4 linked regions of the Homo sapiens genome follow. Each later gene encodes a partner of the first gene's protein in a complex. Each region holds a gene or a part of one and is shown on either strand. Other genes may lie near its edges. A codon is read from its position in the direction of its gene.

What was found.
Region 2: the proteins of PARP1 (region 1) and HPF1 are in contact, whole or in part, in a crystal structure (PDB 6M3I), measured with the Homo sapiens proteins. Residues at the interface, in NP_001609.2 of Homo sapiens: Thr825, His826, Asn827, Ala828, Arg865, Met890, Lys903, Asn906, Tyr907, His909, Ser911, Gln912, Gly913, His934, Lys953, Ser983, Leu984, Leu985, Tyr986, Glu988, Thr1011, Ser1012, Leu1013, Trp1014; in NP_060337.2 of Homo sapiens: Asn234, Val236, Asp261, Arg264, Leu265, Phe268, Gln272, Glu273, Thr276, Phe277, Gln279, Phe280, Asn282, Asp283, Glu284, Cys285, Tyr287, Tyr304, Lys307, Val308, Gln311, Leu315, Leu319.
Region 3: the proteins of PARP1 (region 1) and SMYD2 are in contact, whole or in part, in a crystal structure (PDB 9CKC), measured with the Homo sapiens proteins. Residues at the interface, in NP_001609.2 of Homo sapiens: Thr526, Leu527, Lys528, Gly529, Gly530, Ala531; in NP_064582.2 of Homo sapiens: Thr105 (codon at 3,172), Leu108 (codon at 3,181), Val179, Asn180, Cys181, Asn182, Gly183, Phe184, Thr185, Glu187, Leu191, Ser196, Ala203, Met205, Tyr240, Ile241, Asp242, Ser257, Tyr258, Asn380.
Region 4: the proteins of PARP1 (region 1) and TIMELESS are in contact, whole or in part, in a crystal structure (PDB 4XHU), measured with the Homo sapiens proteins. Residues at the interface, in NP_001609.2 of Homo sapiens: Gln846, Lys849, Pro850, Phe851, Leu854, Arg878, Ile879, Ala880, Pro882, Asn928, Lys940, Lys943, Gly944, His946, Tyr992, Asp993, Ile994, Ala995, Gln996; in NP_003911.2 of Homo sapiens: Asp1036, Gln1040, Pro1043, Val1045, Pro1046, Leu1047, Thr1048, Glu1049, Glu1052, Glu1053, Glu1056, Ser1074, Gly1075, Gln1076, Glu1077, Thr1078, Phe1079, Arg1081.

Annotation. Positions count from the first base shown.
Region 1 is NC_000001.11:226,404,760-226,412,905, reverse strand, and holds the start of PARP1 (poly [ADP-ribose] polymerase 1), read left to right. Parts: upstream 1-4,812; 5' UTR 4,813-4,976; coding exon 4,977-5,096; intron 5,097-8,146. UniProt on the Homo sapiens protein: Poly-ADP-ribosyltransferase that mediates poly-ADP-ribosylation of proteins and plays a key role in DNA repair.
Region 2 is NC_000004.12:169,747,361-169,755,041, reverse strand, and holds part of HPF1 (histone PARylation factor 1), read left to right. Parts: intron 1-1,206; coding exon 1,207-1,366; intron 1,367-4,316; coding exon 4,317-4,506; intron 4,507-6,199; coding exon 6,200-6,298; intron 6,299-7,681. UniProt on the Homo sapiens protein: Cofactor for serine ADP-ribosylation that confers serine specificity on PARP1 and PARP2 and plays a key role in DNA damage response.
Region 3 is NC_000001.11:214,311,666-214,319,346, forward strand, and holds part of SMYD2 (N-lysine methyltransferase SMYD2), read left to right. Parts: intron 1-3,096; coding exon 3,097-3,207; intron 3,208-6,413; coding exon 6,414-6,474; intron 6,475-7,193; coding exon 7,194-7,318; intron 7,319-7,681. UniProt on the Homo sapiens protein: Protein-lysine N-methyltransferase that methylates both histones and non-histone proteins, including p53/TP53 and RB1. Specifically trimethylates histone H3 'Lys-4' (H3K4me3) in vivo. The activity requires interaction with HSP90alpha.
Region 4 is NC_000012.12:56,445,845-56,453,336, forward strand, and holds the start of TIMELESS (protein timeless homolog), read right to left. Parts: upstream 3,583-7,492; 5' UTR 3,466-3,582; intron 1-3,465. Other genes in the region: MIP (lens fiber major intrinsic protein), read right to left, coding at 5,436-5,621, 7,228-7,308. UniProt on the Homo sapiens protein: Plays an important role in the control of DNA replication, maintenance of replication fork stability, maintenance of genome stability throughout normal DNA replication, DNA repair and in the regulation of the circadian clock.

The sequences.
Region 1 (8,146 bases):
CCTCTGCCTCCCAAGATCAAGGGATTCTCCTGCCTCAGCCTCCTGAGTAGCTGGGATTATAGGCATGCACCACCATGCCCAGCTAATTGTTTTGTATTTTTAGTAGAGACAGGGTTTCACCGTGTTAGTCAGGCTGGTCTCAAACTCCTGACCTTGTGATCCGCCTGCCTTGGCCTCCCAAAGTGCTGGGATTACAGGCACGAGCCACCATCTCTTCTTTCCACTCCTGATCAATCTTGACAAAATATAAAACCAAACCAAGACAAATCAACTTTGTAAAATAAAGATAAAGTTGGAGGTCTCACACTTTCTGATTTCAAAACTTACTATGATGTGGCGTTGGAATAAAGACAAACATATAGACCAATGGAACAGAATAGAGAGCCCAAAAATAAACCCTCAACATATATGGTTAAATGATTTCAACAAGGGTGCCAAGATCATTCAGTGGGAAAAGGACAGTCTCTTCCACAGATGGTGGATCTCCACATGCAGAAGAATGTAGCTGGACCCATACCTTACACCAAATGTTTGTTGTGAGTTTATTTACTTTTTTGTGTGTGTGGAGACAGGGTCGTGCTATGTTGTCCAGGCTGATCTAGAACTCCTTACCTAGAGACACTGCCAAGGTAAGTGAGGGCCAAGTGGACACTGAGTGATTCTGTGCCTCACTGAGCAAAAATAACTAAACATGGGCGAAGGAGAGCCCAATGATCCCAGGGACAAAATGTCATCACGGGCATTCTGCGCACGCTTGCCAGGATACAGGAGAAGCAACCAGACACTTCATTCATCTTCTCAGAATGTTCATTAACATGTTCAGAAAGGTGGAAAACCTTACTTGCTAAAGAGAAGGAAATTGGAGGCATGGCCAAAAGTATTCAAGGCCCTTTATGAAAAAGAAATGAAAACTGATATCCCTCCTAAAAGAGAAGTAAAACAGAAATTCAGAGATTCTAATGCACCCGAAAGGCCTCCTTTGGGCTTTCACTTTGTGTTCTGAGTACTGCCCTCAAATCAAAGGAGATCCCGGTCTGTCCACTGGCAGTGATGCCAAGAACCTGGGAGGGACATGAGTGACCATGCTGCAGATGGCAAGCAGCCCAAAAAGAAGGCTTCTCAACTGAAGGAAAAGTACCAAGAGCAGAATGCTGCATATCCAGCCAAAGGAAAGCTGATGTGGCAAAAATGATGCTGTCAAGGCCGAAAAAGGCAAGAAAAAAAAACAAAGCGGAGAAAGACAGAGAAGGTAAGGAAAATAAAAAATGAAGTCGATGATAATGACAAATAAGGTGGTTCTATGGCAGCTTTTTTTTTTTTCTCTTGTCTATAAAGCATTTAACCTACCTGGACACAGCTCATTCCTTTTAAAGAAAAAAATTGAAATGTAAAGCCACCTAAGATTTATTTGTAAACTGCATGATGGCGTTCTTTTTCTGTTTTTGTATTATTAACAAGAATTATCAAGTAATTCTTCAGACAACCCTGTCCTGGTGGTATTTTGTATAGCCACCAACTTTGCCTGGTATACTATAGGGGTTATAAATCAGCATGGGAATTTCAAATTTAAGGCACAGTATAAGTTAGTTATATACAAATGTGAAGTAACATTATTAATTAAACTGTTGGCCTGTGCGAAGGGAGGGCCAACTGTGGGATTCAGTCATTCATTCAACAAATATTGGTGAGTGCCTGACACTGTTCCAGGCACTGAGGCTATTGCAACAAAACAGACACAAGCTCCTGCCCTCATGGAGCTTACATTCTGGTGAGGGATACAGAGCCACCAAAAAGGATGGCAGCTGGGCCATGAGAAAGGATCAAAGTCAGGAAGTTAGAATTCGGGGATGGATTGAACATGGGACAAAAGAGAAGAGTCAAGTTGACTACAAAGCATTTGGCCTAAGTAATGCAAAGAATGGTGGGCCATTTCCTGAGATGGGAAGCACTAGGGTAGTTTTGGACATAAATGGAGATGCATATAAGCCATCCAAACTGAAATATTGAGAAGGCAGTAGGTGATAGTTGGCTTTCCTTAGGTTCTAGGGCAGGAATTCTTAACCTTTTGTGTGTGTGCCTAGGACCCCTTTGGTGGTCCATGAAGCCCTTTCCAGAATAAATATTGTGGAGGAACCTACCTTAATGCAATAGTAGCTTCTAGGTACATTATCAGGCAAACTATCCCACAAGTTACAAAACAGAAAGCCTCACAGACCAAATTATGATGCTTGAATTGCAGGGTTTATTGAATCAGTTTAAAACCACTTACAGCAAGAACTCGATGGGGTGCATAACATACACAGGATAGGGTACAGGCGAGGCAGATGGACCACACCACCAGAACCTAGAATTAGGGAATCCTCCCCTCCCCTCCCCTCCCACCCCTCCCCCCTTCCCCCTCCCCTCCCCTCCCCTCCTCCCCTCCTCTCCCATCCTCCCCTCCCCTCCCATCCTCCCCTCCCCTCCCCTTTTCTCTTCTTTTCTTTTTTTGAGACTGTCTCACTATGTTGCCCAGGCTGGAGTGCAATGGCGTGATCTCGGCTCACTGCAACTTCCACCTCCTGGGTTCAAGCGATTCTCATGCCTCAGCCTCCCGAGTAGCTGGGATTACAGGCACGCACCACAATGCCCAGCTAATTTTTGTATTCTTAGTAGAGACGGGGTTTCACCATGTTGACCAGGCTGGTTTTGAACTCCTGACCTTAGGTGATCCACCCGCCTCAGATTCCCAAAGCGCTGGGATTACAGGCATGAGCCACTGCACCTGGCTAATATTGATATGTTTTCCCTCTCTCTGCCGCATCAGCCTGTCCCACTGACAGAGTTGAGGATGCTCAAGGCGGCTCAACAGAGGGTACCTGGAGCAACTCACACTGCACTATCAGAGAGACACAAGTGCAAGCACACTCAGCCACAGCTGCAGCTCACCAATCAGCCTGCTGAACAGACCTGAACTTTAGCTGCATTTTTGGGGCAGAGCATATGGGTGCCAGGATGGGACCATAATCTTATCACCAATGAGTGGCCATTTAGGGATGATATAGTTGTCAACCCAGAGATGGCATGATCATGCCTTTTGACTTGGTCATTCTCTAAGTAAAACTTTTATTTGTTCCATCATATTTTCCACTTATTCTGTTTACCTTCAAAATATCTTTTTTTTTTTTTTTTGAGACAGGGTCACACTGTCACCCAGGCTAGAGTCCAGTGGCACTATCATGGCTCACCACAGCCTCAACCTTCAGGGCTCAGGTGATCCTCCCACTTCAGCCTCCCGAGTAGATGGGACTACAGGCACCTGCCACCACCCCCAGCTAATTTTTGTAGAGACAAGGTTTTGCCATGTTGTCCAGGCTGGTCTTGAACTCCTGGGCTCAAGGGATCCGGCCACCTCAGCCTCCCAAAGTGCTAGGATTATAGGCATGAGCCACTGTGCCCAGCCTACCTTCAACGTATCTAACTGGTTACTAACTTTTAGGATTCGGCCTATGTCTCACAACCTTCTTGCTTACTCAACATCCTTGTCTCTTAAGCCACTAGCTTCTTCTCTATGGTTAACACTTTTTATGAGTTTTATTCATCTGCTTATTTTTCTTATCCTCTATACCAGAATTGAATATTTTCAAATAAAGCACACTCATGTTACAATCTTTGAAATGAAAAAAAAAAATGCATAGGATTAGAAAAGAAACCAATTTTAATAAACTATATTTTGAAGTATAGTTCTATATTAAACAACAAGATCTAGGCCAGGTGCAGTGGCTCATGCCTGTAATCCCAGCAATTTGGGAAGTCGAGGTGGGAGGATTGCTTGAGGCCAGGGGTTCAAGACCAGCCTGGGCAACATGGAGAGATTCCCCATCTCTTTCTTTACACACACACACACACACACACACAAAATATCTGATAGCAACAGGTGCAGTCATTACCACAATTTCGAGTAGTGATGAGCTTAATAATATTTCGAGTTATCACCAACAACTGTAAAGTAACATGAAAACGTCTGTGATGACTATTGCCCACAAAGTCACAGGTACTGCTAATACTCCTGGTATTTGTAGTCAAATTCATAATAAAGGAAATGCTAGGTTTCAGTTGGTATTTTGTCCCGACGGTCTGTGGACGGCAGGTTAGAACGCCCGTCCAAGCCAGGAGGGTGGACCTAGCACTGCAGGGTCCACCTCGGGCCAATCAACTATATTCCCGAGGCGGGGGCCTGCGCTTCCCGGACCCAGCTGCCCTCAGGGGAGAGAGGACACACTTAAGAGTTTGGGGCCGGCGTGGTAGCTCATGCCCCTGATCCCAGCACTTCGGGAGGCTGAGGCGTGAAGATCACTTGTAGCAGGAGTTTGAGACCAGTCTAGCCAACTTGGCGAGACCCTGTCCCTAAAAAAAATTTTTTTTTAATTAGCCAGTTGTGGTGAGCGCCTGTAGTCCCAGCTACTCGGGAGGCTGAGGTGGGAGGATCGCTGGGCTCAGGAGTTCCAGACTGCAGTGAGCCATGATGGCGGCACTGCACTCCAGCGCGGTGAGACTCAGTCTCAAAAATAAAAGGGGGAGGGGTTGGGGGTAAAATTAGTTGTGAAATCAAGTAAGACTTCCTGGGACAGAACAATCAAAGGGGTGGCGCCGGGTCCTCCAAAGAGCTACTAGCTCAGCCCAAGCCCCGCCTCGGCCCCCAGGGCAGCGGCCCGCAGAGCTCCACCCGGCAGGCGCCCGGGAAACTCCGCCCCCCGGCCGGCAGGGGGCGCGCGCGCCGCCGGCCCCGCCCCGTGGACGCGGGTTCCGTGGGCGTTCCCGCGGCCAGGCATCAGCAATCTATCAGGGAACGGCGGTGGCCGGTGCGGCGTGTTCGGTGGCGGCTCTGGCCGCTCAGGCGCCTGCGGCTGGGTGAGCGCACGCGAGGCGGCGAGGCGGCAGCGTGTTTCTAGGTCGTGGCGTCGGGCTTCCGGAGCTTTGGCGGCAGCTAGGGGAGGATGGCGGAGTCTTCGGATAAGCTCTATCGAGTCGAGTACGCCAAGAGCGGGCGCGCCTCTTGCAAGAAATGCAGCGAGAGCATCCCCAAGGACTCGCTCCGGATGGCCATCATGGTGCAGGTGCGGGCCGCTGTGCGGGCGGCGGGGCGGGGACGCGGCGCCCCGGGTTAACTGTGTCCGGGAAGGCTGGGGGAGGGCGGGCCCAGGGAGCGAGCGGGCCCGGGCCCTCGGAGCGGCACTTGGGGCCTATGGGGCCGCGGCCGCCCCTCCTCCCGAGCGGCCCGGCCGACCCTTCCGGAAGGTTTTGCTGATGTTGCAGGAAAAGCCCGGGAAATAAAGTCTGCAGCTGGTGTTGCCTTTCGCTTTGTGAAAACGAGGAGCCTCTTCTCTTCTCCTTTCTGGGTGGCGGTGTTTTATTACTGCCGTTCGCCTCAGGGGTTGGGGGGGAATTGTACATGGTCTCTTTAAGCTAATCTGATTTTGACCTATCTTGTTCTGGAGGGTTTTTGTTCTACATGGATGGTGGCGACTGACATGTGGGTTTTTTTTTTTTTTGTTAAACCTATTTTTGGCAGTCATTTCAACACGTCATTTAAACGCTCACTCTCATTTTTTATTTTAATTAGGCAGAACTATGCAGAAAGGTGTCATTTCTGTACAGTACATTCACTTTGAGCCTAATTTGTGCTTTAAAGTAACATTTTCCCCAAATTTTCCAGATTCACAGACGCGTTCTCTTGGTGCATTTGCAGCTGTCTGGTTTGAGTAAGAGTGGCTCCAGGGGGGTTTCTCATGTGGGCTTTTTGATAGATTGAATCCCCTTCTGAGGTTTCCTGAGCCTTCTGTGAGGTGGTGGGCTTGAAGGCCCCTGTCATTTCCCAGGGGCTCCTGCCTCCAGCTTCCAGTTTGCCGATGTCTACCTTTGTATTAATAATTCTGGTTCTCATCTGCCCTGTTCCTCCTCGCTTCCAACATATTACCCAAGCTTAGTGCTCATGGTCAAGGTAGCTTGATTTTCCTCCCTTCCATGAGCTGTAATGTGTTTTAGGAATGACCAGATATCCCTCAGTGGATTTTCAGTACTTAGTACAAGGGAGGGCGACATTTACCGAGTGGATACCCAAGTGCCAGGTGTACTTCCGTTATCTTATTTCACAATATGCCTGTCATCTTGGTGTCCTCGGGGCATACCTAAGTCAGTACGTGGCACACAGTGCTTATTTGGTAGGCATTTTTTAAGTTCTAAGCACTCTGTTAGGTTTTAAGGACACAGAATCCACCTTTGGGAATTTCCAGTTTGGTTAAACGGGAAATGACTGGTAAACAAACGTTACCGTAAGAGAGGATGGATGCCACCTGATGGAGCTGTGCTCTAGGCATTGTGTGCCTAGGAGTCCGAGATGACCCAGCTAAGGGTGGAAGCTTGATTAGGAGTCGTTAATTCACAGAAGTGGAGCAGAAAGATGAGAATAGGGAAGTAGACAGGGCCTACAATTTGAAGAGCCTTGTTGCCCACTAAGGAACCTAGAACTTACTTTGAATATACAAGGCAGCCTGTTATGAAGTTCTCACTCCTGGTGCAGGAGCTCTTAACCCAGGGTCTGTGGGATGGTAGGTAGAAGGCAAGAGGTCCATGAGTTTAGATAAGAAAAAATTGATATCTCCATCTCCACTAACCTCTAGATAAAATTATTTCCTCTAATCATAAATGTAAGCAGCAAAGCAAAGGCATATTAGCAGTCCCTATTTTTTTTTCACCAGTGATAATTACAGATATTTTCATATCACTTTACAGTTGGAAGTTTTTCAAAATATAATTTACTCTCATTGCTACAAAAATCACAGTTATTAGAGGCTGTACTAGATCTTGTTATTTAATGCTTAAAAGCTCACGGGTTACTGTACCCAAATTACCTTTCAAATGTTTTGATAATTATCTCAGTGTTTCCTTTTCGAGCCTTTTTGTTTGTTTTGTTTTTTGAGATGGGGTCTCACTATGTTGCCCAGGCTGGTCTCAAACTCCTGAGCTCAAGCGATCCATGCACCTCGGCCCCACAAAGTGCTAGGGTTACAGGCATGAGCCACCGTGACTGGCCATTTGCGAGCCTTTTTATTACGCATTTTTAAATGTTATTCTGAGAAAGGGACATCCAGGCGCCTTAACAGGTGGGCAGAGTACCGTGTTCTGGTGGAAAGACAAACAAAACCCAAGTCCAGACTGTGTTGAGGCTAGAACAACACCGCTGTGGAGGAAGTTAGAGGAGGCTTAGCTGTGGGGGAGGCCGGATGGAGGAAACTGAACCTGATCAAGTTTAGCATTCTGGGGCCGGGCTTGGTGGCGCATGCTTGTAATCTCAGCACTTTGGGAGGCTGGGGTGGGCAGATTACTTAAGCTCAGCAGTTTGAGACCAGCCTGGCCAACATGGTGAAACCTGTCTCTACAAAAAAATGCAATGATTAGCGGGTCGTGGTGGTGCGTGCCTGTTAAGTCCCAGCTACTCCGGAGGCTGAAGCTGGAAGATTGCTTGAGCCTGGGAGGTGGAGGTTGCAGTGAGCTGAGATAGTGCCACTGCACTCCAGCCTGGGCGACAGACCCAGACCCAGACCCAGACCCTGTCTGAAAAAAAAAATAGTAATAACAACATTCTGGGCTTTCCTTTGGTATACTTGATAGTGAAAGAAACTCTTTATTATTAAAAGTAACTGTGATTTTTATGTAATGGTGATTAAGGGTGGATTCAGAGTTTTAATTCAGAATTTAAAGTTGGTCTGGTAGACTGAGCTGGTGAAGGCCAAAAAGAAAGAAGCCTTTTCACTTGCTTGAATTTAAATACCTTCTTTTACATTTACATGGGAGTATTGTTCTCTGAGTATCTGATACCTGACACTTTAGCCCTCATGCCTGGGGCATCTTGGGAGGGATGAGCTGGGCCCTCCAGCATTTTGGTGGGAGGAGGATGGCGGTAGACCTTTGAGTTGCTCTGTCCTGGGAGGGTTTGAGCACCCGGAGGCATGCAGTGAGGTCAGTTCATTCTCTCTGTGGCCTAGGTGGACAGGTAGCATGGCCTGTTCTGCACAGAAGGGAACCCAGTTCACCAGCTGCTGGTTGGGTGAGGACCCTGGTATGTTAGGTGCTCAGTTTTTGCTTGGGTGCACAGCCAAAGATTCTG
Region 2 (7,681 bases), on another chromosome or scaffold:
TATACCTAATAATGACGAGTTAATGGGTGCAGTACACCAACATGGCACATGTATACATATGTAACAAACCTGCACATTGTGCACATGTACCCTAAAACTTAAAGTATAATAATAATAAAATAAAAAAATATATAAATATGAGAAACATCTAGCTCAGAATTTCTCAACTTGAGCACTGTTGACATTTGGGGCCAGTAGTCTTTGTTGAGGATGCCTATCCTGGGCATTATAGGATGTTGAGCATACCTGGCCTCTGCCCCACTAGCACCGTTTCTTCCAATTGGTGACAACTAAATAGGTCTCCAAATGTCCCCTGGGGGGCAAAATCACCACCGGTTGAGAACCACTGCTCTAGGTAGGAAGAATAAAAAGGAAAGAACTTAATCCAAAAAGAAAGAATCTAGGTTCATAGAAAAACAGATTGCTGCTTAGAAAACTAAACATACGTAACTTCCAATTAAGCATATTGTCTTTACAGAAATTTATCAAATATCTAGTAGGCATTATAAAACCTAGTATACTTATATAATGAACCTGTATTGTGGTGGTCCTAGAGATGAGTATTATAACTTCATCCTGGCATTAAAAGGCCTTTTCTGAAATAATTGGATTTTTGGCCCAGAGTTTAGTGCTATTCTGCTAACTTTATTAGGAACTATAGATGTTTAACATTGTCACTAACCTTCCCTCTTTATCTGGAAAATCAAAAGGGAGGTATCTGTTTTTAAGGCTGGGTAATGATTGTAGTGAATAGCTCAGACACAACTCTAGAAGTTGCTAAAGAAACAGCTTTTTAACTGATGAATTGCTTATATCCAGTTACTTCTATTTGTTTCTCATTTGATCAATGAATCTGTTTAAAAGACTCACACCTTTAACCAAAAGAGGGCAAAATCTGCCCTTTCTTTATTCCTCTCTTCCTGCTCTTTATTATTTCTTTTTTTTACCTTTTTGTTTTTTGTGGTTTCCATTATCTTACAAAAATATATTTAAAGACTTGCTGTGTGGATTCCTCTTAACCACCATATAAACTACTCTTTTTTCCTGTGCCCAAATGAATTCCCAGATTTTACTCAAAGACCATTTAGAGAGTTTTAAGGAAAACACATGTATTTCATAGAGTTGGGTGAACAAGAGTGATAGATACTGTTATGCAAGGAGAGTTACTGAAATTTGGAGAACTAAAGTTTGTGTGCCAATTTTCAGTGTGAAAAAACAACTGATGTGAAGAAAAGTAAATTCTGTGAAGCTGATGTCTCCAGTGACCTTCGAAAAGAAGTAGAAAATCATTATAAGCTTTCTTTACCTGAAGATTTCTATCACTTCTGGAAGTTCTGTGAAGAACTTGATCCTGAAAAGCCATCTGGTGAGTTGCTCCAGAATCATTCTTGTATTAATGGAAAGAGTAATGTAATAGGAAACCAGCTGGGTGTGGTGGCTCACACTCTGTAATCCCAGCTGAGGCAGGAGGATTGCCTGAGGCCAGGAGTTTGAGACCAACCTGGTCAACATAGTGAGACCTCCACAAAAAAATTAAAAACAAAAACAAAAAACTAGACGTGGTTGCATGTGCCTATAGTCCTAGCTACTTAGGAGACTGAGATGGGAGGATCCCTCCTTGAGCTCAGTGGTTTGAGGTTGCAGTGAGCTCTGATCACTCCAGCCTCAGTGACAGAGCAAGACCCCGTCTCTAAAACATAGAATAATTGGCCAGGCATGGTGGCTTATGCCTGTAATCCCAGCACTTTGGGAGGCTGAGGCAGGCAGATCACTTGAGGTCAGGAATTCGAGACCCGTCTGGGCAACACAGTGAAACCCTGTCTCTACTAAAAATACAAAATTTAGCTGGGCATGGTGGTGCACACCTGTAGTCCCAGCTACTCGGGAAGCTGAGGCACGATCATTGCTTGAACCTGGGAAGCAGAGGCTGCAGTGAGTCGAGATTGTGCCAGTGCACTCCAGCCTGGGTGACAGAGCAAGACCCTGTCTCAGAAAAAAAAAAAAAAAAAAAAACCTAACCAAGGATATAAACTGTTCATAGAAAACAAATATTTTCCAAGATGTTTCTTCTAGTAAGAGAAAATATAGAAAGAAATATAGATTAATGCTATAGTAATGCCACTGTCACCTAGTTTATTGGCAAAGGTAATTTCATCACATTCTGGGGGAATGTGAAGGAAAGCAAGCTCTTTCATGTGTTGCAGGAGTTATAACAGTTCTGCTTCCAAGAACTTGTCTTATGGATTACATAAACTAAGAATTATGTTTGAGGATATTTACTTAAAGAAAAAATGGGAAATGGCTTAAATGCCTACCAATACCACATCTATTCAGTAGATCTTCATTGTTTTAAAAGAATGAAGCAGATTTTTAGGAAATAATAAACTATCATGCCTGAAATATGTTAAGTGAAAAAGAAGAGTGTATAGAGTATGCTACCATTAGTATTTTTTTAAAAATAGCATGGGGGAGAGAGAGTACACACATATCCCTGTATACTTTTCTGTGTGCTTATTTTGTCTCTGAAAGGATAAAGAAACTGTTAATGGGCTGTGTTCATTACTTTGCACTATACTATTTAAATTTTTTAACTAGTAGGCACTGTCATACACTATTGATGGAAATGTGTATTGATACATATTCTGAATTTTGCCAGTAGATCAGAACAGAACTGTGTAGCTGTTTCTTTAAAAATAGTCATGCCTTTAGCTGGGCGTGGTGGCGGGTGCCTGTAATCTCAGCTACTTGGGAGGCTGAGGCAGAGAATTGCTTGAACCCAGGAGGCGGAGGTTGCAGTGAGCCAAGATCACACCACTGCACTCCAGTCTGGGTGACAGAGCGAGACTCCATCTCAAAAAAAAAAAAAAAAAAAAGTCATGCCTGTATACAAACATTTATTAGCAAAGATGTTCACTGAAACATTTTAGAACAGAAAAAAGAAATAGTAAATTTCCCTCAGTAAGAGAATAGATGGTTACCTCTTTATAATGCAGTATTATGCCCTATTAAAAAATCATGTCAAATAACATTGAATAGCATGGAAAAATATTCAGAACATTTAAATGGGACAGGATGGAGGACAAAAGCAGATTACAATACAAAACAACCCTTCTCAGTTTGTTACATGTTTGTATCTGTTCATGGGGGTGGAGAGTATGGAAATTTGTTACTGTATAATAGACTATTAACTGTTATCTTCGGCTAATGAGATGGATGGTTTTAGTTTTCTTCATGCTTTAAAAATTAGTGTATGCTCTCCTAAGCTTCAGTTAAGCTGAACTATTTTTCCTGTCAAGTTATCTCCATGCTTCTATTCATGTTATTACCTCTTCCAGGAATTTTTTTGTTTTCTTCATCCTTCCCTCCTTATAAAACTGGGTCCTGTCTGGGGTGCTTCCCTCCATCTTAGAAGTAAGGACCCATTTGAAGTTATGCATTGTACACTTGCACAGACTTCATGTCTTTGTGGTTTATGAACACTCCCTGTCTGTGATCCGTGAATAGAGAAGGAAGATGGAGTCATCCAGGGTTAGGGTTGGCCAAATAGATTGTCAAAGAGTCAGGGGAATCTGGTGTGATTAGCTGAGGTAGAGGAAAGGGGATAGAAATGTTTTTTACCTTTTTTTTTTTTTTTTTTTTGAGACAGAGCCTCACCCTGTCACCCAGGCTGGAGTGCAATGGCGCAATCTCGTTTCACTGCAACCTCCACCTCCAGGGTTCAAGTGATTCTTGTTCCTCAGCCTCTCCAATAGCTGGGATTACAGGCGTGAGCCACCACACCCGGCTAATTTTTGTATTTTTAGTAGAGACGGGGTTTTGCCATGTTGGCCAGGCTTGTCTCCTCCTGACCTCAGGTGATCAGCCCGCCTCAGCCTGCCAAAGTGCTGGGATTACAGGTGTGAGCGACCACACCTGGCCTGTTTTTTACTACTCTTAATCCACACATTTTTGCTATCTTTCTCTCCCTTAACCTGTGTGTACTACAAGTATTTGAGGCTAACTGCAGTGTGGTAATGGGCCTATAGGAATACAAACCAGTCTTGCTTTGGCCAAAATAAGAAACAACAGGAATGTCTGAAATGTTAGGCTAATTCAGTGGTAAATTTAAGAGGAAATCCTAAATGTAAATACCACTTTTCCTGTTACTCTGACTTCTTTTCCATTGAATGTTTATAACTGACATCTTCACACATAACTCAAGATTTTTTTAGTTTAGAAACTTTTTAAAGACAATTGCTTAGAAATAGTTTACTAAATAAAAGCATTATTTCCTACCTGTCTCCAGAAAGTATTGTCTAAATTTATTTTCTTTATAGATTCACTTTCTGCAAGCCTTGGACTTCAATTAGTTGGTCCTTATGATATCCTTGCTGGAAAACATAAAACGAAGAAAAAATCAACAGGCCTGAATTTTAACCTTCACTGGAGGTTTTACTATGATCCTCCTGAGTTCCAGACCATTATTATTGGAGATAATAAAACTCAGTACCACATGGGGTATTTCAGGTAAAGGATCTTTTCTTCGCCTCTAAAATACAGCTGCTGTCCTGCTAATGAGGATAAATAGTTATTCACTAGCCTCACCCAAGGTGAAAGGCATATTTTCCCCTGTTGGTGGATATATGAGCCATCTGTTGTTCTTGCTGTTACCGTTTTAACCTTCCCTAGGATGGGTAAACTCTTTAGGTTTAATCTCACTTGTTTTTCCTTTCCTTGTAAACTTTTTTTCCCTTTTGGGTTCAGAAGAGCTCTTTTGGCCCAAGAAAGATAATTTAGAGCAGCTGTGCTTAATAAGCCGTGTGCCAGAGTGGCAACTGGTAGTTAAGAGTGGTCTCTGGAGTCACACTGGTCCTCTTGTTTATTATCTGTGTGACCCTGTATCATTACTGACTGTGACTTTCTGTGACTCGGTTTCCTGTCTTGTAACAATAGGGATAACTGTACATACCTGATAGGAATATTATGAGAATTAAATGAATGCATGCAGAATACTTAGAAATAGAGAAACTCCAGGAGGAAAATACTTGTCCGCTTGTACCAGTAGAAATGCTATCCTTTAAAGTGAAGATTAAATGTAAGGTAATAGAAGGAACGTGCCCAGGAAGAAGTGTTGTAGTACAGCAGAATGCACATGTGGCTAGGAATTGAATTATACTGTAGCCAAGGTCCTAACTTACTAGGTCCTTGGCTGAGTAATTTAACCTCTCGGTATTTGTTTCCTCAATTTTAAAATAAAAGGTTTGGTTATATACGTGAATAGGATCCTTTCATCTCTAATGTTTTACAATCCTTTTTCTTGTTTTTCCTTTTTTTTTTTTTTTGTATTTGAGTATAAAAGCAACTAGGTCCTAAGAATCTTAGTTTTAGGTTCCATTATATAAGATTTATCATAGATATTCCTAAGAAACTTGGAGCTTAAAACTGGCAAATTTGTTTGAATTTTTTTAAAAATGCCCTTATAAAAAAGGCATCAACCTAGATCCTTGGGAGGGACCTGGCTTTCCTTTTTAAAAGATATTTTACTGAGGAGCTGATGAAAAATGACTAGTGTGGGGTTAGCAGATCGAATAATTTGAAGTAGACCATGCAGTATTCCTACCACTACAATGTAATCATCCTATTTGTGACAGAGAAAGGGAAAAAAGTGTAATAATAGGACGATGTACCTATAATTTGGATAATTTTGAGCTATTGAAATGTCTTTGTAATTTTCACAACTGTTGTCCGTTGTTTGAGGATGCTACCTACTAAACTGAAAACATTCATTCCATATCTACTACATATACACCAGCAACAGTATAAATTTAAGCCTAACTTTGCAATATTTATAATACTTTAGTGATGGAATTTTTTAACATGCAGTATGTAAATGTGCAGATTTTATGTGTGTTGACAAAATTTTTCAGCTTGCAAAATGGGACTGCAATATTACATTTTTCACTTAAACAATTTTTTACATCTACGTTGTTGCTTTCTAAAATGAATGTGAATGCCATCTTTTATGACTGCAACTTGCCTTTTCCATTACAGAAATTTTTGTTTGATGTAATCGATAAATTCTGGTATGATTAAAAAAAAAAAAAGGCCTCCAAAAAGGAAAAAAAATAGGTGTAAATTGTTGTCTGTAGACCTGAAATCCCACTTGCCTGATAATATAAATTATGGGCAGCTAAATTTTTAATGTCTTTTGCTTACACAGGGATTCTCCTGATGAATTTCCTGTATATGTTGGTATAAATGAAGCAAAGAAAAATTGTATAATTGTTCCAAATGGAGATAATGTATTTGCTGCAGTCAAGTAAGAATATTTTAATTTATATTTGTTTACAATGTTTATACTACATTAGTCCATTACAAAGGGGGTTTGAGGGGCTGGGCACAGTGGCTTACACCTGTAATTCCAGCACTTTGGGAGGCCGAGGTGGGCAGATCGCTTAGGTCAGGGGTTCGAGACCAGCCTGGACAACATGGGTATACCCCATCTCTACTAAAAATACAAAAATTAGCTGGAGGCATGGTGGCACACACCTGTAATCCCAGCTACTCAGGAGGCTGAGTCAGGAGAATTGCTTGAACACAGGAGGCGGAGGTTGCAGTGAGCCGAGATTGCGCCACTGCATTGCAGCCTGAGTGACAGAGTGAGACTCTATCTCCAAAAAAAAAAACAAAGCGGATTTGAGACAAGCCCATAATTGTAGATTTCTAGAGATAATTTCCATGACTTTTGCAGGTAGTCTTATCTATACTGTTATTTTGTGCCTCTTCACCAAAAAAATACACCTCTTATGTAACTATTTTACTTAACGAAAATAATACTTGACCTCAGGTGTTCCATGGCAACATCAACAGTTTTGTTAGACATCTGATTTTAAACACCTGTTAAGAGTTTATTTCTTATGTATGGTTCAAACAGAAAGGCTTAATAAAGTAAAAAGAGGTGGTCATTATATCCTTGGAAGGGTTGAGGGAGCAGGCTGAGCTTCCAGGAATGACAGTTGTGTGGCTCACAGTGGATTTTGTCTCTGCCACCATCAGGGAGCTGGGAATTCGAGAACTGCTGCCACAGTGAGTGGCTCTAGGACCACATTATCTTTGGTATAATCTGGGCCAGGTAAATGGATGCCCTACTCTTTGCCTCTCAGCCCCCGTGAAGCTAAGAACCAGGTGCTGGGATCTCAGCTACAGCTGCTGCAGAACCATCAGATGCCTCTACAGCTGTGCTCATTGATGGAGATCGTGGAAGCACAGCCTCCATGTGGTATCTCTTCTGCCTCTGAGATTTCAAAGTATTGCAGCTGCTTGGAAGAAGATAGGTCCCATGTGGAGCCTGAGCTAAAGAGTAGTATGGGAAATGCAGTGAACTTTCATGGGGAAGGGGTTGGAATAGAGGTGAGTGAGCCAGTCTGTGCTATATCAGCCACAGACATGACTTGAAGCCATTTTATTTGTCAGCAGCTGTGTAGTTTGCATTGTAATGAAGAAAGCAAACTTTATCACTTCAAATACAAGTAGATTATCTTTTCTTTGACCTCTTTTAGTACTGTCTCTTTAAAGGGCTGTTGTTCCCTGTGATTTGATCATACAAATTTGCAGTAAAGTGAATTCAAACTAAATCACCCTACTACAACCACTAGACTATGCTACGTACATACTGGTGTATCTACAAGGCAGCTACATTGTA
Region 3 (7,681 bases), about 12 Mb from region 1:
TAGTATTTACAGTACCATTAATTTTAAATCAACTACATTAATAAATTGATATTTTATAAATAATAATTATATTAATAAATGTTCATATTTAACTTCCCAGGAATTCATTGTAGTTGCTAAACACCAAGGCACCACCTGCAGTTCAGAAAACAACAGCTTGCAGGCCCGTTAGGGACAGAGATTATGTCTTGGAGTTTTCTTGGAGTTGCTGGAGTCAGAGTGGGCATTTGTCTATAGTTGTTAATGATCCATCTGTCCCCAGCTGGTAGGTCCCCATATCCTCTCAGGTATCCCGAGGGTCATCTCTGTCTTTTCCTCTTTGCTCTGCAGCTGAGGAGGGAGCTGATTAGTCTGCAGGGAGACAGACCCACCTGTTCCCACCTCTTCGCCTCATCACCATGCTCTCATTTTAGGCTTTGGCTAAAAACAGATTCTCTTCTCCCTTGTGCATATCTTGTCATTTCTTTTCCTCCCTGCTCTTAGTTATATTTGGCGCGGCATTATTTAACTCTGCAGAACATCTTGGCCCAGAACTTGAGCTAAGGGGCTGCACCATAGACTGCATTAAATCATTAAGTGACATTATGTGCTTCCTTCTTGGGGGATCAGTGTGGAGGGAAGCGGGTAGGGAGATATCTTCATTCCTTCAACAACTATATTGAGTGCCTACTAAATGCCAGGCACTGTTGTCAGTTCTGGGGTTACAGCTATGAACAAAACAAAATTTCTTTATTTTCCTGGGGAGAGACAGATACTAAACCAAACAACTAATAAATATATAATATGCTCAGGTGGTGAGAAGTACTAAGAAGCAGCAGAAAGCAAGGAAAGGAAGAATGATGGGGAAGTGCTCTTTCTGACAGGGTGATTGTGGCAGGTATCTTGAGAAGGTGACATTCCAGCAGCGGCTGGAGAGGAGGGAGGGAGTCACATGGATATCCAGGGGAGGAGAGTGCTAGCCACAAAACAGAGCAAGTGCGAAGGGCCTTGAGGCAGGTACATGGCTCCAGGCGCAGCCAGGACACTTCTGTGGCTAAGTGCAGTGAGGCAGGTGAGAGTACGGTGGGGGATGATGGGCTGGGGTGGTGCAGGGACGCTCCCATCACGTGTGGCCTCCTAGGTCACCTTTAGCGCTTGGCCTTTTGCCTGGATGAGAAAAGCCATTAGGTTTTGAGCTGAGGACTGGCCTGATCCGAGTTTTGTCAACAGAATCCCTCAGGCTGCTCTCTGGAACCTAGTCCATGGGAGCAAGGACAGAAGCGGGCATCCAGTTAGAAGGCAGTGGCAGGACATTAGTCATGAGAGATGTTGGGGCTGCAGCCGGGTAGAAAGGTTGTGGAGCTAAGAAGTGATCAGATTCCAGGCAGAGACAGAGGATTTGCCAGAACTGACTGAATGTGGAGTGTGAGTGAGAGAGCAGCGTCAAGGATGACTCTAGCTTTCTGGCCTGAGCATTTATTTTTATTTTTGAGACAGAATCTCACACTGTTGCCCAGGCTGGAGTGTAGCGGTGCACTCTCGGCTCACTGCAACCTCTGCCTCCTGGGTTCAAGCGATTCTCCTGCCTCAGCCTCCTGAGTAGCTGGGACTGCAGGCACATGCCACCACACTTGGCTAATTTTTTTATTTTTAGTAGAGATGGGGTTTTATCACGTTGGCCAGGCCAATCATAAACTCCTGACCTCGGGTGATCCGCCCATGTCAGCCTCCCTGCCCTGAGCATTTATGGCCATTTTCTGAGCTAGGGAAGGCCAAGGACAGAGCAGGACAGTACCCAATTCCATCGTGAAAGAGACAGTGTGTAAGGGCTTCCATCAGTATACAACGTGCTCTGATATTTCCCATCTAAAAAAAAAAAAAAGTCCCCCGCAACTTTTCACTACTCTAAGCTGTGTCTCCTTTCATTTTTTCTTGAATCTGCTCCCTGTCATTTCTTACCCCATCATCCCACCAAAACTTGTTTTTATGAAAATCATCAAGCTTCCATGATTCCAAATCACATTCTCCGTCCTCTCACACTAAGCCTATCTCCAGCACTGGCATCATCATTTACTCCCTAGTCCTCAAAGTACTTGCTTCCCTCAGCCTCCAAAACACCATGGTGTCCTTCTCTCAATGCCTTCCCCATCTCAAGTGATGGCGCCTCCACCCTTCCAGCAGCAAATATCCTTCATCCCTCTACCCGGGGCAGGGAAACTTCAGGGCGTATGATAGAAAGAATACTACTGTTAGGCCAGGCACGGTGGCTCACGCCTGTAATCCCTGCACTTTGGGAGGCCGAAGCAGGTGGATCATGAGGTTAAGAGATCAAGACTATCCTGGCCAACATCTTGAAACCCCGTCTCTACTAAAAATACAAAAATTAGCCGGGCGTAGTGGCACACACCTGTAATCTCAGCTACTCAGGAGGCTGAGGCAGGAGAATCACTTGAACCCGGGAGGCAGAGGTTGCAGTGAGTCGAGATCGCGCCACTGCACTGCAGCCTGGCAACAGAGCGAGACTCTGTCTCAAAAAAAAAAAAGGAAAGAAAGAATACTACTGTTTTATCCAGTGCATCTTTGGGAAGTCCTAACTATTCCTAAATCTTTCCAGTGGTTGCCCTTCATGAAACCCTCATTTGTGCTTTTTAAAAAGTCGCCTGTAAAAGGGACTCATTGCTGTGTAAGTCAACTCTCCATTATTTGCCCTGACGTGAGAACAAAGCCAGAGCGGAACTGTGAGGCAACAAAGCCAAATCAATGGCTGATACTCAAATTGCTCCCTCTGCAATTTGACAGCTTGCACAGATGATGGAAAGATGTATGTGTTGTTTAGAATAATGAGGGGCTGCAGAAAGCCATGAGGTGCTTGAGGAAAAAACACAAAGTAGATCTTCTCATCCCAACAAGCTTGACCCAGGCCTGAGTGAAGGTCATACAATCCTGCCTATCTTAAAGGATGTTTTTATCTCTAGCTTTTGTGAGCATCCTCGTGTTTTCCAAAAGGAAACATATTTTACTTGACCTTAACTAGGGGGACTCACTGCATCCTCTCCTCTCACACTTTATTCCAGTGTATGTGCTATTTTTTAATAATGTTTTTTTCAATCTTCCCAGAAAGAAGATTGGCCCATGCACAAGCTGGAATGTTCTCCCATGGTTGTTTTTGGGGAAAACTGGAATCCCTCGGAGACTGTAAGACTAACAGCAAGGATTCTGGCCAAACAGGTGAGGAAATGGGACAATGTTCAAGTGCATTTTATTTTGTTTTTCTTTTAAAGGTCAGAAAGATGAGTAACTGACCTTTGGTAACCATCTCTCGTTAAACATCCTTAGACTACATTTCCTATCATATCCATATGGACAGGGGTGGGGAAAATACTCCAGGCATAATCTAGTTAGTTGTGTGCCCTGTGCAATTAGGATGTTGCTTACCCTAGACCAGGAGCATAGCCACAGCTCTGAAATTCTGAGCTGTTTTCATGACAGGTTTACATGGAAATACGTGACATGAAAAGCCTGACCTCAAATAATTAGAGCTTCCTAGGGAACCAGATTGGTCTGAGCAGCTTTGAGATTTTCCTCTCTTTCCATTCTGACATAAAGAGTGTACTCTGTTCCCCTTTCCTGTGTAATATTCTGCTCTTTCTTGGCTCCTTTCTTGCCTGTGCATAGGCAGGCAAAGAATTGGATGGAACAGCCTTGACTATGACATGTGCAAAGAAGAGAAAGAGTGGAAAAGTAGAAATAGAGGCAAGGGAGAGGGGAAGAGAGTTAAAAAAAAAAAGTGAAGAAGAAGGAAAGAAAGAGGTGCCCTTGATGGAAACAGATGATAGTCATCAATGGCTTTCTCCAGAAGTGATGCCAACTCTGACTATTCTGTGGTGGGCAGGACTATGCAAACTTACGCTCAAAGAGTGAGGAAGCTGAGAGACAGAAGAAAGAAGCTGACAAATCCAGTTTATTAGAAACATTTACTAGGACTTATGAACTGAAGCCATGTCTATGTCTTGGGCGGCAGCAAGACAAGATGGTGGATCCCTGCACCATTACCCACCAGAGCCAGGGCTTATATACCATAGGGAAGAAATGTGTACAGCAGTTACAAGGAAAGGCAAGGATGCTATGCAAATCTGCCTGAGAGCAAGATTTGTGCTCAAGATTGTATTGACCTAAGGCAGGATTTAAGGTAGCCATAGACAAAGTAGAAATCTTAGAAGCATTCCCAGAGCAGGAGTTAACCAGAAATCAACATGGTATATCAGCATCCAAGATGAAATTGCTTTAGCCACCGTACTGACTGTTCTCCGCCTGGTCTGGTTCATTCTTGCTGATTGCATAATAATTAGACACCTAATCTTCGAAGGGCCAAACTAAAAAGAGGACAGGAAAATGCCATAGAACTTGTCCTTGTGATCCAATGAAATAGGCAGTGTGGGGCTTAGAAGGCATATGTCCAGGCTGTGGAGGTCTTGCTCCTCAGTGCTGTCAGAGAAGTTGGTGGCAGGGCCTCTGGACTATAAATCTTTTAAAGCTGAAATTTTGGCTGGGCATAGTGGCTCATACCTGTAATCTTAGCACTTTGGGAGGCCAAGGCAGAAGGATTGTTTGAATCCAGGAGTTCGAGACCAGCCTTGGCAACAAAGTGAGACCCATTCTCTATAATAAATTTTAAAAATTAAAAAAATTTCCCAGGTGTGGTGGTATACACCTGTGGTCCCAGCTATTCTGGAGGCTGAGGCAGGAGAATTACTGGAACCCGGAACTTCAAGGCTGCAGTGAGCTGTGATTGTGCCACCATACTCCATCCAGCCTGAGCAACAAAGTAAATGAGACTCTGTCTCTAAAAATGAAAAAAAAAAACAAACTGAAATTTCATCCACTTCTCCTGTATACCTACCAGCCCTCCTCCACCCTTAAAATTTTTCTATTTTTTAATCTAAGCCAAATGTGATGGAAATGATTAGCATGTATCTGTCCCCAGACCAAGTTAGGATCCTGGGCTGTGTAAACAGAAGTAGAACATTTCAAAACTCTGAGGTCATCCTTCAGCTATGTTCAGCTTGGGTCAGGTGCTTGCCGAAATGCTACCTCGCCAGCCAGCCGAGAGTAACAAAGGCCATTCATGGGTTGCCTGTAGAGTGAGACCAAAACATCAGAATTGTTTCCCTGCAGGAGGTTAACTTTCGGATCCTTAATAACAGTTATTTTTAAATTTATGCAGAGTATTTGGGCTGAATAAGTCAGAGGGAATAGGATGACTGGGTGTGAGGTATCAGAGTCAGTAAGTCATCAGATGGGATCTCCGCACATCTTGGGAGGATTGGGTGGCCAAGCTGGTGTTTTATTATTTTGTTCCCCTGAATTATTGATGATATTTATAGTGATATGTTAAGAATTCAGAAGAGGCTGGTAGACTTTCCTGAATGAAAAGCTTTCCCAAGCGAGATGACTTATAAATCTTATAAAAATGCATCCCGTGAATGGAAGATTTCTGCTCCAAAAAAGAACTATTGAAATATTTCGGCACCAGGAGGGTAGTCTGAATGCAAAGATGAGTTTATACAAGCTTCATTCAAGTTTTATTATAATTACTACTACTACTAATAGTGTATTAAATGAAAGTTACCTGCCCATCTTTTCATCTCTATAGGACTTGATGATTAAAAAAACAGACCATTTGTATTCTAGTAGCTTGCAAAGGATTAGGGGAGACAGGCTACCAAACTACCAAGGGGAGGCTTAACATGTTAACTAGGGAGGTGAGCGTGCCCTGCTAGACCACCTGTATCCCCAAATTGAATAGCCACATTACAAAGACATGGCCTTGGGCCAGCTCCTGAGCTCTGCCTTTGAACTCTTGTCAACACCAAGTTTATTCATGTTCTCAAAGCCTAGCGGGTTTACTATTGTTAGCTCCTCTTGGGGTGTCTAGAACAAAGCCAGCAACGCGTTTAAAGTGAATCTGGGCTCACAGATACAACCAAAAGTGTTCTTTTTGAAACACAGAATTTGAGATCATTTTAGCCTATGCTTAAAGAAAGTGTAAAATGGATGGGGGGTTTGATTTTGTTCCTTTTTAGAAGGAGAAATAATAAATAGGATGGTTTGTCTGTAGACCCAGTCCTTTTAAGTAAGGACCCTAAAAAGTTGTTTTCCGGCCCTGTTCTTTCCCGTAACAGGTATTTCTGAGCCTACTGTGTGCATAGTATTATCAGGGTGTTAGGTACACGGTAGACATTTAAAAAAGCGCTTTAGAAGAGTCTTTGGATTTGGCTGGTGGAGAGCCCTAGTGGTGGAGTCCTTGAGTAGCTTGTTTTACTTCCTTAAGAATTGTTACTTTTTCTTTATGTTGATGTAAAAGTGAAAGTGCCACTTTATTACACTGGTTGTTAAAAAATCTGTATCTGTGTGATTTCTTCCCCAATTGCTAGAAAATCCACCCAGAGAGAACACCTTCGGAAAAATTGTTAGCTGTGAAGGAGTTTGAATCACGTAAGTCTTTCTGTGACCAGCCGCGCAGTTCTCTCAGCCACAGATTTCACATGGGTTGGGCAGGATTGAAGCGAGGACGGGCTAGTTTGTGCTCAGAGGAGTAGTGATTTCTTTGATTACTAGTTTTTATTTTTACTCTTGTGCTGTTTCGAAAAGCACTTTTAGCTTTTTTCTTCTGAGTTGACAGGATTGTTAGGAAATAATTAAAGGAGGTAGGAGCTCCCAAAATGAATTATTGCACCCTGAGCTACCTCCTGCTGGCCCTCTTGGCATGCTGAATACTTTTGGATCTTTGCTGAATTGCGTCCTCTAAATAGCTGATGTTCTTACTGAAAGCCGTGAAATCAGGGGTTGTCCAGTTGTTTGACCACGGCCCAGATTCCCGGGCCAATTGGGGGGCCCTTGACTAGGCTGAGGCTGGTTATGAGTCATTGCTACCCATCCCTGACCTCATTGCTAACAGTCAGTCGAAATCTCACGTCCCAAGTGACTTCTAGTCATCAGAGGGAGAGAAGGAAGAAATGGCTTGCTTTCTTTCCTTAGGGTTTGTCAGTTAAACCAAGTAATGGGGAAGAATGTTCTCTGGGGGTTCAACATGTTAGTTTTGGGTTTTTTTTTTTTCGCCCGTTCCTTTCCTCTGTATCATTTACAGCAAAAATAGGATGTAGCTAGAAATCCCACGCTTTCTACTGGGTGAATAATGGATTATTTATCCACAGATCTGGATAAGTTAGACAATGAGAAGAAGGATTTGATTCAGAGTGACATAGCTGCTCTCCATCACTTTTACTCCAAGCATCTCGGATTCCCTGACAATGATAGCCTCGTAGTACTCTTTGCACAGGTAAGGACGCTGGCAGCAGGTAACACTCAGTCTGGCCTTTCCCTCTCCAAGGCCCTCTCCCTAGCAAGCACTCAGTGAAGATGAATGCAAATAGAATGATGGCATCTTCCTGACAACGAAGCTCTGAGCCAATTGGACCGTGTGTTGCCATAGCCTTGCTCAGTGACCTTGAGCAGATCAAGGTCCCCTCTGCTGGCCCTCATTGATGGGTGGAGTGTAGGAAATTCGCCTCTGCCTCTGCCTCACAAAGAGTTCATGAAAACAAAGGAGTTGTCAGTGCCCTGGTACTCTGGCATACTTTAAGCTCTTTGCAAAGAAAAGACCATTTGAAGTTCCTACATTAAATTTTACTTTTACTCTCTT
Region 4 (7,492 bases), on another chromosome or scaffold:
AGTTCCTGAGTAGCTCTTGCTTAGGTTACTCAACCTCTTCCTATCCTCTTTCTCTGCCTCCAGACTTTTTTTCTTTTTTGAAAGAGGGTCTCACTTTGTCACCCAGACTGGAGTGCAGTGGTGCAATCACAGCTCCCGGCAGCCTCAACCTCCCAGGCTCAAGTGACTTTCCCACCTCAGCCTCCCAAATAGCTGGGACTATAGGGTACATCACCACACCCTGCTAATTTTTGTATTTTTTCTAGAGACAAGGTTTTGTCATGTTGCCCGGGCTGGTCTTTAACTCCTGGGCTCAAGCGACCCACCCACCTGGGCTCCCAAAGTGCTGGGATTACAGGCATGAATGCAGCTGCCTCCAGTCTTGTTCAATCTAGCCTCAATATGGTTACCTGATTTAGGCATATAACAATCCTGCTTAGAACACTTCAATGGATACATAAGAAACTTCATAGTGATCGTCTCTGAGAACTAGGGGATCTAGGATAGGAGAAATATTTGTCTTTCCCTTTGGTACTATTTGAATTCTTTACTATTAGCATGCATTACTATACAAAACTAAAGTTTCAGTGACCTCCAGTGCCTACAATACAAAGTCTTTCATGAATCTCTCTCCTGTTTACCTCTCACGCTTCTCTCTCAAGCCACTACTCTATCTAGAATGGCCTCCCATCCAAATATCAGCTTAGCTCTGAAGACTCTGTGCAGGCCAGGCGCAGTGGCTCATGCCTGTAATCCCAGCACTTTGGGTGGCTGAGGCGGATGGATCGCCTGAGGTCAGGACTTCAAGACCAGCCTGGCCAACATGGTGAAACCCTGTCTCTACTAAAAATAAAAAAAATTAGCCAGGTGTGGTGGTGGGTGCCTGTAATTCCAGCTACTTGGGAGGCTGAGCCAGGAGAATCGCTTGAACCTGGGAGACCACGCCACTGCACTCCAGCCTGGACAATAAGAGCAAAACTCCATCTCAAAAAAAAAAAAAAAGACTGCCCAAAAGGGACTTCCTCCTGACTTCTCCATACAGAAGTGACCTCCTTTTCCTTAATGTCTACTGTGTACCATATTCAGACTTCCAACATGGTACTTACAATTCATGTTGTATATAATAGTTAAAATCAAAGTCTATCTCCCTCCATTAGCCTTAGATTCCCTGAGGACAGGAATTCTTTTTATTTTTTTTTTTTTTGGAGACGAGTCTCACTCTGTCACTCAGGCTGGAATGCAATGGTGCAATCTCGGCTCACTGCAACCTCCGCCTCCCGGGTTCAAGTGATTCTCCTGCCTCAGCCTCCCAAGTAGCTGGGATTACAGGAAAATGCCACCATACCCAGCTAATTTTTGTTTTTTTTTTTTTTTTTTTTTTTTTTTAGTAGAGATAGGAATTCTTATTCACCCTTGAACTTTCAGAGCCTTGCTACAGGATCAGAATTTCCAGCGATGGGGCTTAGGCAAGTGTTTTGACAATGTTCCTCAGGTGATTCTAACTATCCTATGTTAACTGCACGAAAACGTAAACTCTTTCACATCAGGAATCATCATTACGCAGCACAATGTAAGTGCTCAATAAATGCTTTACTAAATTGAACTGAAACAGAGAAGTCTGGAAGATGAGGGAGAAGAGTTTGGAGCTAAAGATTTGGAGGCATCAGGATGTAAGATGGTGTGAGTGCAGTGAGAGGAGGAAGGAAGCCAGGAAGGACTTCTTGATGACCCTTTCACTGTAACCACAGAAGACTCAATTACATGTGTTTTCCTTAGGACTTGAGTTCCTTAAGGGTCGGGAACTCTCCATCCTACTCATCTCTGTAAGCCTGGCGCTAAGCACAGTGCATGGTACATGTTAGGAGCTCAGTAACCTTTTATTGATCTTTTATTGAGCTGTATCAGTGCCCCTGGTAATAGAGGGGGGTAAAAAACTTCAGGGACACACAGGAAGAAGTGACTAACTTGGCATAGGAAGCTGGATACATTGATTTTCAGAGGGACAATTAAGCTCAGTCTTCAAAGAGAAGTTCGCTTGGCAGAGCAGTGTCAAGATCTTCCAAGCAGAAGGAACAGCAGGAACTAAGTACTGAGATATGAAAGAGGGCAGCCACAATCTTTCCACGTGGCCAGGAGTCAGGTGCGTAAGAGATTTACAAAATGAGATTGAGAGGGTCAGGGCCAGACTGAGAGGCCACAGACACCCACCTACGGATTTAAGGCTAACTGTGGGTGGTCAAAGAGGAGTTTTAAATTTAACATCAGATGATCTACCTTTACTTTGTACAAAGTACTAGTAGGGCCGGGTGTGGTGGCTCACACCCGTAATCCCAGCACTGTGGGAGGCCGACGCGGGCGGATCATTTGAGGTCAGGAGTTCGAGACCGGCCTGGCCAACATGGTGAAACCCCATCTCTACTAAAAATACAAAAATTAGCCGGGCGTGGTGGCGGGCAGCTGTAATCCCAGCTCCTGGGGAGGCTGAGGCAGGAGAATCGCTTGAACTGGGGAGGCGGAGGTTGCAGTGAGCCGAGATCGGACCACTGCACTCCAGCCTGGGCGACAGAGCCAGACTCCATCTCAAAAACAAAACAAAACAAAACAACCAAAAAAAACAAACAGGCCAGGCGCGGTGGCTCACGCCTATAATCCCAGCACTTTGGGAGGCCGAGGCGGGCGGATCACGAAGTCAGGAGTTTGAGATCATCCTGACCAATAAGGTGAAACCCCCATCTCTACTAAAAAAAATACAAAAATTAGCCGGGCATGGTGGCGCGCGCCTGTAATCCCAGCTACTCAGGAAGCTGAGGCAAGAGAATCGCTTGAACCCGGGAGGCGGAGGTTGCAGTGAGCCGAGATGGCGCCACTGCACTCCATCCTGGGCGACAGAACGAGACTCCGTCTCAAAATAAAATAAAATAAATAAAAAATTGAAAGTACTAGTCGAAGCACGAATGGCAAAGAATTGAGAGGCTCAAGGAAAAAAGCTTCATTAGCGGCTGAGGTCCAGGTGACAAACCCGAACAAGGCAACGAAGGGAGGGAGTGAGAAATCCGTTCCATAAAACCCACGATATAAGTAAAGCGGCCTGTGAATTCCGACCACTGCTGACCGCCAGGCCACACACCGGTTTTTTTCAGGAGGTCTCAACTAGATGCTAAGCTCCGAAGTGGAACTCCCTCAGGCACTTTCTGTTCTAATTCAGGAATTCCAAGCCCCTTTCCATCACAACCCCATCCCGCGGGAGACCCAAGCTGTGCGGAGCAGCGTAGGGCTAAGCCCGCGTCCGGTGAGACCCGGGAACGCGGCGCGGGAGACTAAGGAGCAGAGTACAGAATTGCGCGTGCGCGCCTGCAGCACGAGCCCCGCCCCCTGGCTCTAAACCGGGTGGCGGGAAAAGGGACTCAGCGTTTCCCGAGAATGCCCCCATAGCTTCGAAAGGATCCCCGTGTCCGCTTAGCGCCCTCTCGCCACACACTCACTCACCCGCTCCCTGCGGGTCCTCAGAAGCCCGGAGGAGCCACCGGCCCTCTGGCGCGGGGCCGCAGCCTTTCCGCCACCAGGCTCAGCTGGACCGGTCCCCGCCTGCGCGAAGAGCGAGGCGGGGCGAGCCGGGCTGGTCCACGTGACTCCGAGCGAACTGGGGCGGAGATTGGTGAAGAAGGAAGGAAAAGGGAAGCGAGTGCAGGGACTGTTTTATGTGAGGTCGATCTAAAAATCACAGCGCTATGAATTTTCTGCTGAATTATAGTAGAATCAAAGTCCGATTAGAGGTGAATTTACAAACATTCTTCCCCTTCTTCTAGTCAAGCGGACTATTCCAAGTCTTAAATAGTTAGTTAGAAAAGTTAGGTTTTATTTGGGAGGAAGTAAAGAGCTGAAGTACAGGGAGGAATGGTCTTCTGGGATAGGGGATGTCCGTTGTATTATAGGTATAAATTTAAAGCTTTCAAAGTATGCAAGAGGCTCATAAAAGGAAGAAAGCAACCGTAAATATTCATTGAACAGTTGAGGGTCTCTTCTGGCCTCTGCTGAGATGATCTTGCCAAAAGGAAAAGAAAATAGGGCTGTGCTCTGGCCCCCTGTAATCCCAGCTACTGGGGAGGCTGAAGCAGGAAGATCGCTTGAGCCCAGGATTTCTAGACTGTAGTGTGCGATGATCGTGCCTGTGAATATCCATTGCACTCCAACCTGGTCAACATAGTAAGACCCCCTCTCAAAAAAAAAAAGAAGATAGGGCTCAAACAAATAATAATCTCCTGAATTATTAAGCATTTGAATAGAAGGAATCAATTTCTGGGGTATGAGGGAGTTAGAAGAGATTTGCTTCAAGATGAAAGGACGGATGACAGAGAAATGAAAATACACAGACACAAAACAAGAAAAAAAACACGGAACTAGTGATAAAAGCAGAAAGATGCCATTTGAGGAGTGTTTTGATTTGCTCTAAATAAATTAGAACAGAGTCAAAGCCTCTCCCCTCATGCCCCCTACTACCACCCGTTCATTTATTTGCTCCAGGAATCAGATTTCCTGTGTTGGCCTTAGGGAACAATTGTGGGGCTTAAATACCATCTGCCAGGCAGCCACAACAGTGGATGTCAGGCTGACCAGTTAAGCTGCTTAATTTTTCTAGATTCTAGGCTTGCCCAAGCTCTATTTAGGTTGGAAGCTCTTTGGCCCAGGACCTCTGAAGAGATCCATTATGTCAGAATGAACACAACCAGCCAGCGGATGTAGACAGGTTTACGTGGCTTTACAGAACAGCTAAATCCTAGTGTTCACTTTTCTCAGAGCTACTTCCCCACCCAAGTCCCTGGGGCAAGCATCCCTAAGATAAGTAGGCTATATATTCCCATTAACTTCCCCCCAATTCTTCGGTACACCTACATCCTGATCTGGGGCTAATACTCCGTTTTCACCACCCACCTCCCTTGAGTCCCTTCTCCTAACCCTTGGAAGCCTTGTCTCCTCCACTTCTCTCCATCTGCCTCGTGTGAGGAGTAACTCCCTGCTTCTCTGTTCCCTCAGAAATCAAGAGCCACACACTTGACTGGCAGCAGGGTAAAGGCCAGAAACTTAAGGTGTCGGTTACCCAGTACTCACCATACTGGGTCGAGGAAGGGAGGTATAGGATGGCACCTCTTTTTGCTTCCTTAGCTCTCATGCCCCAAAACTCAGACACAGCCACACTCACATTCATATGCACAATCAGCACACACGGCGAAGGGTGGTGGGATGGGGAGGAAGGGAAGTTTGCACCAACCAGCTCATGAATGCAACTTGAAAGATTTCACACAGCAAAAGGAAAAAAAAAAAAAAAACAACCACATACATAAGTTAAAAAATAAAGAAGTACATGACCCTCCCCACAGTCTCTTTCTTCATCTAGGGGCTGGCTAAACCCCTCCACGTAAACTCAGAAGCTTTCTACTCCCTCTATTCAGCTGGAGCTTCTACAGGGCCTGGGTGTTCAGTTCAACAGGTTCCCCTGTGACCTCTGGTTGTCCATTGGAGACATCGGGTTTGGCACCCTTGAGGACAGACAGTCTCTCAGAAATACTCTTGAGCCGGGGGAAGAGAAGAAAGTCGTACAGGAGGCTGCCCAGACCCCCTCCAATGATTGGGCCTACCCAGTACACCTGTAGAAAGAGAAAAGGAATACTCAGGCTTGGGGAGGGGACAGAGTAGCAACGCTGCTCTTTTTCCAGCCACCTTAGTGGAAAACAAGATATTGTACACTTGATATCTACAATAAACTCACCATTTATTTTCTGATTCATCAAATTACTCCTTTATCCCACACCTTAGCATGTGTATATTCTATTTGTTATCAATTTGCACTAGTTTGTATGTTGCTTTCAAAAAAATTTTATACATTGTGGTAAAACACATATAAAATTTACCATATTAAATATTTTTGGACAGGCGCAGTGGCTTATGCCTGTAATCCCAGCACTTTGGGAGGCTGAGACGGGCGGATCACAAGACGGGCGGATCACAAGGTCAGCCATTTGAGAACAGCCTGACCAACAGGGAGAAACCCCATCTCTACTAAAAATACAAAAAGTAGCTGGGCGTGGTGGCAGGCGCCTGAAATCCCAGCTACTCAGGAGGCTGAGGCAGGAGAATTGCTTGAACCCAGGAGGCGGAGGTTGCAGTGAGCTGAGATCCTGAGATCAAGCTCCACTGCACTCCAGCCTGGGTGACAGAGGGAGACTCCATCTCAAAAAAATATATATATGTTTTTAAGTGTACAGTTTAGTAGTGTTAAGTATATTCACATTGTTGTGCAACCTATGTCTAGAACTTTTTCATCTTGCAAAGCTGTAACTCTATACCCATTAAACAACTGCCTATTCCACCCCACCCCCATCAGCCCCTGGTAACTATCCTTCTACTTTGCGTCTGTGAATTTGAGTACTCTAAATACCCCATATAAATGTAATCATACAGTATTTGTCTTTTTGTGACTGGCTTATTCACTTAGCATAATGTCCTCAAGATTCATCCATGTTGTGGTATGTGTCACAATTTCCTTCCTTTTTACAGGTAATATTCCATTTATGTATATACCACATTTTGTTTATCCATTCATCCACTGAGGAACACTTGGGTTGCTTTTACCTCTTGGCTATTGTGAATAATGCTGTTATGAAAATGGGTGTACAGCTTTGAAAAATTTTTAAATTATTTCCATATGTTTGGCTTGCACAACATCAACATAACCAATATTTATTGAGTGCTTACTTTATATCAGATTCTGTGCTAAATGTTTCTCACATATAACTTTCACACATTTCTCGTAATGTCCCATTTTATAGTAAAACAAACTGAAGCACAGAGTGATTATTTGCCCATGGTCACACACAAAGCCGATAACGTATTAGAACTGGAATGGGGCTGAGGCCCATCTGTGCTCACAACACATCTTGATCTCTGAGAGCAGAATTTATTCTGCTCATATTTAGTTGTCTCTCTTCATACCCGCTAGTTCAGCAACCAGTGAATACTCAGTGCATACTCCCTGACTAACCAGAGAAGGAAAAATATGAGCAAGAGCCTCTCCTTCTAGCAAAATCATGAATCCTGCTCACACAGGCATGCCAAACTCTCTGACAGCCCCCTTAGCTGAGTGCTGGTACAGCAGCCAACACACGCAGAAGGAAAGCAGGAATCCAGCCTGGAACCTGCAGTCCACAACCATCCAGAAGGGCTTCAGGATCTTGCCCCTCTCCCTTCACTCACCCAGTGGTTAGTGAAGTTCCCAGTGAGAATGGCAGGAGCAAAGGAGCGGGCAGGATTCATGCCTGCACCAGTATAATACATCTGCAAAAGAGACAGTTGTAACTGAGACACCCCCCTACTGCACCCCAGCTTCTCTCCCCACAACCCACATTGCCCCTGAGAGCTGCCATCTTTTCTCCAGCCAGCAGCAAGTGGAGAGGGACAGCCTGCATGACTCTCCAGGGGTTCCTGCAATGGGGTGAGGGCAACTGATGCCCTGTCTGGG